Homo sapiens: one gene and its partners. The protein of the gene in region 3 purifies or fractionates together with the protein of the main gene of each other region. This does not show direct contact. Each region holds a gene or a part of one and is shown on either strand. Other genes may lie near its edges.

The links.
Region 1: the proteins of BYSL (region 3) and RPS3 purify together in Homo sapiens (affinity purification with mass spectrometry; 6 studies listed by BioGRID and IntAct, with this or other methods). This does not show direct contact.
Region 2: the proteins of BYSL (region 3) and NOC4L purify together in Homo sapiens (affinity purification with mass spectrometry; 4 studies listed by BioGRID and IntAct, with this or other methods). This does not show direct contact.

What each region holds. Positions count from the first base shown.
Region 1 is NC_000011.10:75,402,518-75,405,117, reverse strand, and holds part of RPS3 (small ribosomal subunit protein uS3), read right to left. Parts: intron 1,099-2,600; coding exon 911-1,098; intron 698-910; exon of another isoform or gene 552-697; intron 447-551; coding exon 253-446; 3' UTR 250-252; intron 1-249. UniProt on the Homo sapiens protein: Component of the small ribosomal subunit. The ribosome is a large ribonucleoprotein complex responsible for the synthesis of proteins in the cell. Has endonuclease activity and plays a role in repair of damaged DNA.
Region 2 is NC_000012.12:132,150,151-132,153,061, reverse strand, and holds the end of NOC4L (nucleolar complex protein 4 homolog), read right to left. Parts: intron 2,082-2,911; coding exon 2,021-2,081; intron 1,805-2,020; coding exon 1,694-1,804; intron 1,579-1,693; coding exon 1,418-1,578; intron 1,325-1,417; coding exon 1,242-1,324; intron 979-1,241; coding exon 865-978; intron 781-864; coding exon 661-780; 3' UTR 594-660; downstream 1-593.
Region 3 is NC_000006.12:41,924,441-41,928,095, forward strand, and holds part of BYSL (bystin), read left to right. Parts: intron 1-2,933; coding exon 2,934-3,096; intron 3,097-3,655. UniProt on the Homo sapiens protein: Required for processing of 20S pre-rRNA precursor and biogenesis of 40S ribosomal subunits. May be required for trophinin-dependent regulation of cell adhesion during implantation of human embryos.

The DNA of each region.
Region 1 (2,600 bases), on a different chromosome or scaffold from region 3:
AGGGAAAACTATTTCATATACACGAGTAAAAGCAGGAACTTCTTTCTGGAAAGAATAAAGGCAACACCTGTCCCATTGGAACCAAGGGTTAAATAGACCCCAGGTTTCAACTTGTATTCTCCCACATAAAGCAAATAAATGAAATTTTTATTCACCAAACGCTTACCAGAATGTGGGATACAAGTATTAACAGAAAGACTCGGAAGGACCCTATTATGCCCCAAGAGGCCCCTGCCCTTGCAGACATACCTGTTATGCTGTGGGGACTGGCTGGGGCATGGCAGGCGGCTCTGGCTTCCCACCCTTCTGTTCTGAGATGGGGGTGGTGGGCAGTATCTCATCTTTGGGTTCCACAATGCTCACGTGGTCAGGCAGGGGCTTCTTAGGGCCAATCTTACCAGTTGGGTCCCAGGGCAGCATGATCTTCACCTTGATGCCCAGCACACCTAGAGGACACCACAGTTGTTAGCACACAGCTGGGGTCTCAAAGGCCCCCATCACACAAGACCAAAGAGAGCAAGCAGTTTACTCAAGCACCCCTGGGTCTGGACCCTTCTCAGACAAATGCCTCTAAATCGATCAATAAATAGGACACTTCTGCCAAAGGAACTCGTGCACAGCACCACAGAACATGGCACTGACAAGGACCAAGAGCAGGACGTGACCTTTCTGACTCGTCATCGTGTCATCACTGAAGGGTACACAGATGGCTAAAACAAGGACAAACCAACTCTTGGATCTGACAGATCTCAGCAAATCGATTCTTACAGATCAACGTGGCAATCGATACACCAAGGAATATGAACATGCCCAGCTACTTCCATGATAAACTCCCCCAAATACTTAAGATGTCTGTGGAAAACCAAATCTGTCCACAAATGCCCTTTGCCAAGCACTCTCAGCTGCTCACCCTGTCTGAGCAACACGTGGCGCACAGCAGTGTCAACGTAGTAGTTAACAGGGTCTCCGCTGTGGATCATCAGGCCATCCACAAACTTCATGGATTTAGCCCTCTGTCCTCGGAGTTTCCCAGACACCACAACCTCGCAGCCTTTGGCCCCACTCTCCATGATGAACCGCAGCACACCATAGCAGGCCCTTTAAAAGAACAGAAGAGAGCCACTGTGTTATTGCCAAGGACCTCCACCAAGTTTAAAAAACAAAACAAAGACTTGGTTTTCAATGTTCCTTTAATGGAGAATAATTTGACCAGAGTCCGGCCCCAAGAATACCAATTCTCTTCCACACCTATCATTCCGAACCTTAGGGTAATATTCATCAAGTATGTCAAGCTCCTAAATATGTACTTTCCAACCCTGGCTGCATACTGGAATCACCTCAGAAGGCTAAAATAAAAAACAAAAGAAACCCTGACATCTAGGCCCTACTCTAGGCCAATTAAATGTGCAAAGTCCAGGAATATCTATTTAAAAATGCTCCCTGGGTGATTCTCATGTATAACCAAAACTGAGAACCACATTTACACTCCACAATTACCCACTTTGTGGTCCCTTGAAATACTCTGCAACCTCCGAAGTCTCATTCACTAGGAAAGCTTACCCACCTAGGATCCTGGCTATCTTGCTATTAGAACGCTGATAAAACACTTTAAAATATGACCTACCCCCCAACTCATTCGGCAGTTTACGCTCTGCGAGATACTAACTGGAGAGCTAGCCACCTCCAGGCCCTTTCACATTATCTTACTTAATATTCCACAACTGAGAGGTGGTATAATGGTCCACCTTAGAAGATAACAGATCCCAGGCTGAGAGGTTCATTAACTTGCTTCAATGTGTGCAAACAGCATGTGGAGGGGTTATTAAGACAGATTGCTGAGTCACACATCCAGTTTCCCATTTGGTGGGTCTGGGGCTGGCATTAATCTTGAGAACCATTGTTCTAAGCAGCCTAGCTGGCACTCAAACCAGGTAAGCCGTCTTTTCTATGTCCTTACCTAGAGCCTTGCCTACACTACCCATCCCTACCAGTCAACCTTCCTACAGCACAGCTTTCCTGTCATTCCTCTAGGCAAGGCATTTCAGTGCCTTTACATACAGTCAAACTGCACAAAGAACTTCCTGTTGAAATCTTACCAGTAGACCCTCACATTACTACTATCTGCATGCAACTCAGAGGTTAAGTGTCTAGATTTTAAGCTATTTTGCATCAGGTCTATCTTATCTCTTCACAATACCATCTTAAGAGTGAACACACTAAGCAGATTTGAATGATTGCTACTAAAGTTTCATGGTATCCTAACTAGTACTAAGGCACTTCTACCTAGGGATACGTAACACACCCAGTAACAGGCCTAATTATTCCTCATTGCCCACTGCCCCGCCCCCCGCAACAGGGCTCTTTGTAAAGCCTTCTCAAGAAGACCAACAGGAGTTGGTCCCCTCCTTGGACAGTTCTATTTGTGTTTAACTCCCAAAGCACCCAGAACACTTCTCCATTACAGGACTGACCACCCTTTACAGTTCTTGCTGCTTTAGTAGTCTTGTTAGCCTGCCAGTTCAGTGAGGGCATGACTTAGTATCTTATTATAACCCTGGGAGACTAGCAGATCCTGTAACTTTGTAACAGTTCATCTGCTA
Region 2 (2,911 bases), on a different chromosome or scaffold from region 3:
CAGCCAGCGTGGGATGCTGACACTCACAGGAACCCCCGACTCACACCAACCCCCCACTGACACCAACACCCCCCACTCAAACCAACCTCCCATTCACACTAATCCTAACCCACCCCCCACACACACCACCCCCCCATTCACACCAACTCTCCCCTCACACCAACACCCCCACTCACAACCAAACTCCCCCCAGTCACACTGACCCCCCACTCACACCACCTCCCCTCACTCCCACACACACCATACCCGTCTACACCACCATACACCTCCCACCACAACTGACCCAGGCAGAGAGAACCCCCCCAACCCTGCTCCCTCCCAGGTGTCTGGAGTGTAACCTCAGCAGAGGCCCCGAGCTCTGCCAACAGGGAGGTCACTGGGGCCAGGGGATGAGGGAGGCTGGGTGACCGGTGACACTGGTGGGCCGGAGGCCCTGGGAAAGACCACGCCTCAGGTTCCCCACCATCCCCTCCCAGGCTGTGGAGTCGGCAGGGGCCTCGCTTTGCCATGTGCCTGGTGGGCTCAGGCAGATGTGAGGCCCTCGGCCTGGCAGAGGCATCCAGCCGCCCCAGTCCACACTCCCTGAGCCTTTCTCCTGCAAAAACATTTATTCACAGGTGGGCTGGGGTCAGCTGAGATTTATTCACAGGTGGGCCAGGGTCAGCTGAGCGTGAAGTGCTGGGCACAGAGTTCACCCGGCCGTCCCAGCAGGCCCTGGGCTGGGATAAACTCCAGTGGCACCGGCTCGGGCCCCTTCTTCTTCAGGTCCCGCTCAAAGATCTGCAAAGCACAAAGCACGGCGGCTCTCAGGCTTGGCTCAGCGCCCCGTGGCCCAGACCCTCGCACCCTGGCCCAGTTCCGCACCTCGTAGGCCGTGAGCTCCAGCAGTGGCGCGATGCTGACCTCAGGCATGGACAGGGCCTGGTTGATGACGCTGGCGGCTTTGGACACCTCAGGGTGGTAGTGGCGCTGGAGGGCCTGGGGCAGTAGGGCCGTTAAGAGGCAGCTGCCCCAGGCCCCCGCCCTGTGCCCCCAGCCATGGCCTCCCTGTGCTCCCAACCAGAGTGGGCGGGGTCGGGACGGAGCCACGTGAGAAGGCCAAGCACCCAGCACCCACAAACCCAGGTGGCCAGCTGGGGACGCAACATGAGGCTATGCGGGAGGTGGCACGGGGAGCTGGGCTTTCTGAGGGGCCGAAGGATGGCTCGGGAGGCCCCAGGGTGTGGCAGCAGCGCCCTCACCTGAAGCTCCCACAGGGAGCTCTCCAAGGCCCGGCTCTGGGCTGGGTCCTCCTCTCCAGGGTCGTAGGGGTCGGCGTCCAACTCTAGGAATGAGACGTGGGCCCTTGTCTGCCGTCCACAGCACCAGGCACCCCCGCCCCAGCTCCAGCCCAGCCTCCGAGGGCCCCGCAACTCACCAGGGCCGTGTGGACGGTGCACGAGGACCCGGCAGGCAGGGTGCCGGCGCAGCAGGTTACAGATGAAAGGCAGGACCATGAGCAGGGCCTCAGGGGGAGCCGTCAGGGCCAGGCGGGCCAGCCGCTTGGCGAAGGCGGCCACCAGGTAGGCGGGGAGGTGGCTGGGCAGGGCAGTGGTTGTGAGACAGGGCCCGGACTGCTAGCCCCCACCACCCTCCCCTGGCCCCAGGCTGCAGCCGCACAGAGCAGGGCAGAGCCAGGTGCCCTGGTACTCACGAGGAGGACAGGAAGAGGTCAGCCAGGTGGAAGAAGCGGGCGCGGTACTTGACGTGAAAGACAGAGGGGTCCAAGAGGCCGTAGAGCTTCCGGTAGAAGTCAGGGTACTCCCTGCGGGCCGGGGGGAAGGAGCAGCGGATGGAGCAGGGCCCGGGAACTGAGGCCTCCAAGGCCAGGGTCTCACTCGGCGCCCCTTCCTCCCGCCCAGGGACTCCAACACCATGGCCTGTGAGGAAAGCGGGGACCCCGTGGGGCAGGGTGGGAAGGGGACAGAGGAGCAGGGCTGGGCAGACTGGGAAGAAGACCTGCACCCCTGGTGACACTCACAGGTTGTGTTTGTGAATCAAGATGAACAGCCCGTTCAAGGCCAAGAGGCTGAGGGCCCCCCCTGCAGACAGACAGACACAGGCTGGAGCTGCAGTGACCTCGCTCCCACCCTACCCCCTGCCCACACTGAGTGTAAGTCTGTGGAGTGTGGCCTCTGCCCCTGCTGTCCCCTCCCACAGCCCCCACGGACACAAAGCTGGAGACCACATGCAGGGCAGGGGAGTGGGGGGTGGAGGCAGTGGGATCGGGGAAGAGGTGCTGCGGGGTGGGGGTTGGGGGTGTGAGCGAGGCGGCGGCACTCACCGAGGGGATTAGGGGTGTGGTGTGAGCGAGGCGGCGGCACTCACCGAGGGGATTAGGGGTGTGGTATGAGCGAGGCGGCGGCACTCACCGAGGGGATTAGGGGTGTGGTATGAGCGAGGCGGCGGCACTCACCGAGGGGATTAGGGGTGTGGTATGAGCGAGGCGGCGGCACTCACCGAGGGGATTAGGGGTGTGGTGTGAGCGAGGCGGCGGCACTCACCGAGGGGATTAGGGGTGTGGTGTGAGCGAGGCGGCGGCACTCACCGAGGGGATTAGGGGTGTGGTGTGAGCGAGGCGGCGGCACTCACCGAGGGGATTAGGGGTGTGGTGTGAGCGAGGCGGCGGCACTCACCGAGGGGATTAGGGGTGTGGTGTGAGCGAGGCGGCGGCACTCACCGAGGGGATTAGGGGTGTGGTGTGAGCGAGGCGGCGGCACTCACCGAGGGGATTAGGGGTGTGGTGTGAGCGAGGCGGCGGCACTCACCGAGGGGATTAGGGGTGTGGTGTGAGCGAGGCGGCGGCACTCACCGAGGGGATTAGGGGTGTGGTGTGAGCGAGGCGGCGGCACTCACCGAGGGGATTAGGGGT
Region 3 (3,655 bases):
TTGGGTGCGTTCAGGGTGGTATGGTCGTAGACTATCTCCTCCAATTAGAATGTAAGCTGTATAGAACAAAGTCTTTTGGTTTCGGTTGTTCGTGGATATATTGCCAGCACCCCGAACAGTGCCTCACATATAGTAGGTGCTTGGTGTTTGCTGAATGACTGGGTTAATCGGTAATGAATGATGGTCAGGTAGGTGGGAGCCAAGCCTACAAAAGATTTTAAAACCATCCTAACAGCAGTGGGAAGAATGGGAAGCTACTGGAGAATTTTAAGGACAGGGCTGATCAAATCAAATATGTGTTTCTGGAAGGTGACCGTCTGCAGAGTGGAAAATGAGTTGGAGGGAAGCAAGGTCAGAAACATAGAGACCAGTGGGCGACTGTTGAATAAATCCAGGCAAGAGATGATGCTGATCTAGGCTTAGATGGGGCTGTGAAGCATGTGAGAGACAGTCTATGAGGTAAAATTGAATATGATTTAGTAATTGATTGGGTGTTGAGGGTGAGGGCAGGGGATGAGGCAAGAGTACCTCCCAGGCTTAGCATTGGGTGGACGATGGTGCCGTTTACTGAGCTGTGGATGGTTAGCAGTGTAGACCTAGGAGGGAAAGAAAATTAGTTTAGTTGATAACGGGTGAGATTTGAGGTGCCTGTGAGTCATCCAAGAGCAGCTTACAGGAGACACCTGGAGTTAGGGTCTGGCACTAAGGAGAACCACCTACAAAGTACAAATTTGGGGGACCGTTGGAACGTGGAGACAAAATGTCTGTTCCCCCTTATTTAGTGTTTATCACACACTGCCTTTGTTGTTAATGACCTATTGATACGTAGCATTATAGCTCCCCACTTGGATTATTAGACCCCTTTCCAGATGCCCAGACATGTAGCCTTCCAAAAACAGAAGTTATTTAAATGGACTAACTTCATTTTTTTTTTTTTTTTTAAGACGGAGTCTCGCTCTGTCGCCCAGGCTGGAGTGCAGTGGCACGATCTTGGCTCACTGCAAGCTCCGCCTCCCGGGTTCACACCATTCTCCTGCCTCAGCCTCCCGAGTAGCTGGGACTACAGGCGCCCGCCACCACACCCGGCTAATTTTTTGTATTTTTAGTAGAGACGGGGTTTCACCGTGTTAGCCAGGATGGTCTCGGTCTCCTGACCTCGTGATCCGCCCGCCTTGGCCTCTCTAAGTGCTGGGATTACAGGCGTGAGCCACCGCGCCCGGCCTATTTATTTTTATTTATTTATTTATTTATTTTTTTGAGACAGAGTTTTGCTGTTGTTGCCCAGGCTGGAGTGCAGTGGCGCGATCTCGGCTCACCTCACCTCAACCTCCACCTCCCGGGTTCAAGCGATTCTCATGCCTCAGCCTTCCCAAGTAGCTGGGATTATAGGCATGCGCCACCAAGCCCGGCTAATTTTGTATTTTTAGTAGAGACGGGGCTTCTCCCTGTTAGTCAGGCTGGTCTCGAACTCCCAATCTCATGATCCACCCGCCTTGGTCTCCCAAAATGGTGGGATTACAGGCGTGAGCCACCACGCCCAGCCAACTTCATGTATTTAAATGGACTGGTGGATTGAAATCTGAACTCTACTGCCTGAATTTAAAGGCCCTCCAGTCTGGCTTCACCTTTCCCACGTACCTAGCATTATTTCTTGCTATTGCCTAGGAGACTCTTATATCCAAGCCTTATTTTCTCTGCGTCTGGAACACACTCCTTCTGCTCCCAAACTGCCCATCCAGCTCCTAACTGTCCTCACCACTCATCCTTTAAGTGCATATGTTGTCTCTACTACTCATTGTGGCATATAATCAAACCCGAATATGTGTAGAATAGTGGTGAAGAATGCAGTCTAGACCCAGACTACCTGTCTTGGGCAAATTACCCAACTTCTCAGTGCTTCAATGTCCTCATTTGAAACTGGGTATAGTAATAGTATCCACTTCTTGGGTTTATTCTTATTTATTTATTTATTTGCCATTGTTCCATAAGAAGGTTTATTTTATTTTTTTTAATTTTATATATATTTTTTGAGACGGAGTCTCGCTTTGTCACCAGGCTGGAGTGCAGTGGCGTGACCTTGGCTCACTGCAACCTCCACCTCCTGGGTTCAAGTGATTCTCCTGCCTCAGCCTTCCAAATAGCTGGGACTACAGGCGCCCACCACCACGCCCAGCTAATTTTTGTATTTTTAGTAGAGATGGGGTTTCACCATGTTGACCAGGGTGGTTTCGATCTCTTGACCTCGTGATCTGCCCGCCTCGGCCTCCCAAAGTGCTGGGATTACAGGCGTGAGCCACCGTGCCCGGCCACTTCTTGGGTTTATAAGGATTAAACAGTTAACATGGGTATAGTGTTTAGAAGTTCCTTCTACAGGCCGGGAACAGTGGCTCACGCCCTGTAATCCCAGCATTTTGGGAGGCCAAGGCGGGCGGATCACGAGGTCAAGAGATCGAGACCATTCTGGTCAACATGGTGAAACCCCAACTCTACTAAAAATACAAAAAATTAGCCGGGCTGGTGGCTTATGCCTGTAGTCCCAGCTGCTTGGGAGGCTGAGGCAGGAGAATGGCATGAACCCGGGAGGCGGAGCTTGCAGTGAGCTGAGATCCAGCCACTGCACTCCAGTGTGGGTGACAGAGCAAGACTCCATTTCAAAAAAAAAAAAAAAAGTTCCTTCTACATAACTGAGTATGGTATGTTAACTATTATTTATGGCCATTGCTTTTCTTATTGTTTCCTGTATATACATTTTGTTTCTCAAGCATGATTGCAAGCCCCTGGGGACAGGGAGCTAATGCATTTGTTTCACTGCACATACCTGCGTCTATCACAACCACATGTGAGGCCTGTACTACATAATGGCTAAAGTTAAACTGACGAAATCCCTCAGCTACCTTTTGCTGTGCTCATCCATTTAGTCTCCCCTCTTCTAGGTCCAAGAATGCCTCAGGATGGATCAGATGACGAGGACGAGGAGTGGCCCACCCTGGAGAAGGCTGCCACAATGACAGCAGCGGGCCATCATGCAGAGGTGGTTGTGGACCCTGAGGATGAGCGTGCCATAGAGATGTTCATGAACAAGAACCCTCCTGCCAGGTAGGCCTGGGGATTTGGGATAATGAGTCCTTGTAGAAAGTTCCCACAGGAAAACAAGTTCCCTGGCAGACTTATGATTCCCTACCTTTGGAAAGGGCCCTGGAGTTGCTAGCTGTAGGGGACCACCTTGACAAAACTGGCCCATCCTCAAAGGACCACTGTGAGTAGGAATGACCCAGCCTCAAAAAACATTGTGTCCTTATGTCCATTTGTTGTACAACTGCCCAGTTGCCAGGGAAACAGTTCCAGGCCCCTTTTACACCTCTGGGGAGAGCCATCCTATTGCATTTGGTTTTGGTATTCTTAGTTTTTTTAGCGGTAAGCTCAACTTCCTTGGACAAGTCTTCATATCCTAAGCTTCATTTAAGCCAAGGTTTTTCAACCTCAGCATTATTGACATTTTGGGCTGGGTAATTTTGTGTGTGTGTGGAGGCTGTCCTGTGCAGTGTAGGAGGTTTAGTAGATATCTCTGATCTCTACTTCTAGACTCCAGTAGCAACCTTCCCCCAGTTGTGAAAACCAAAAATGACATCAGACATTGCCAAATGTCCTCTGGGAG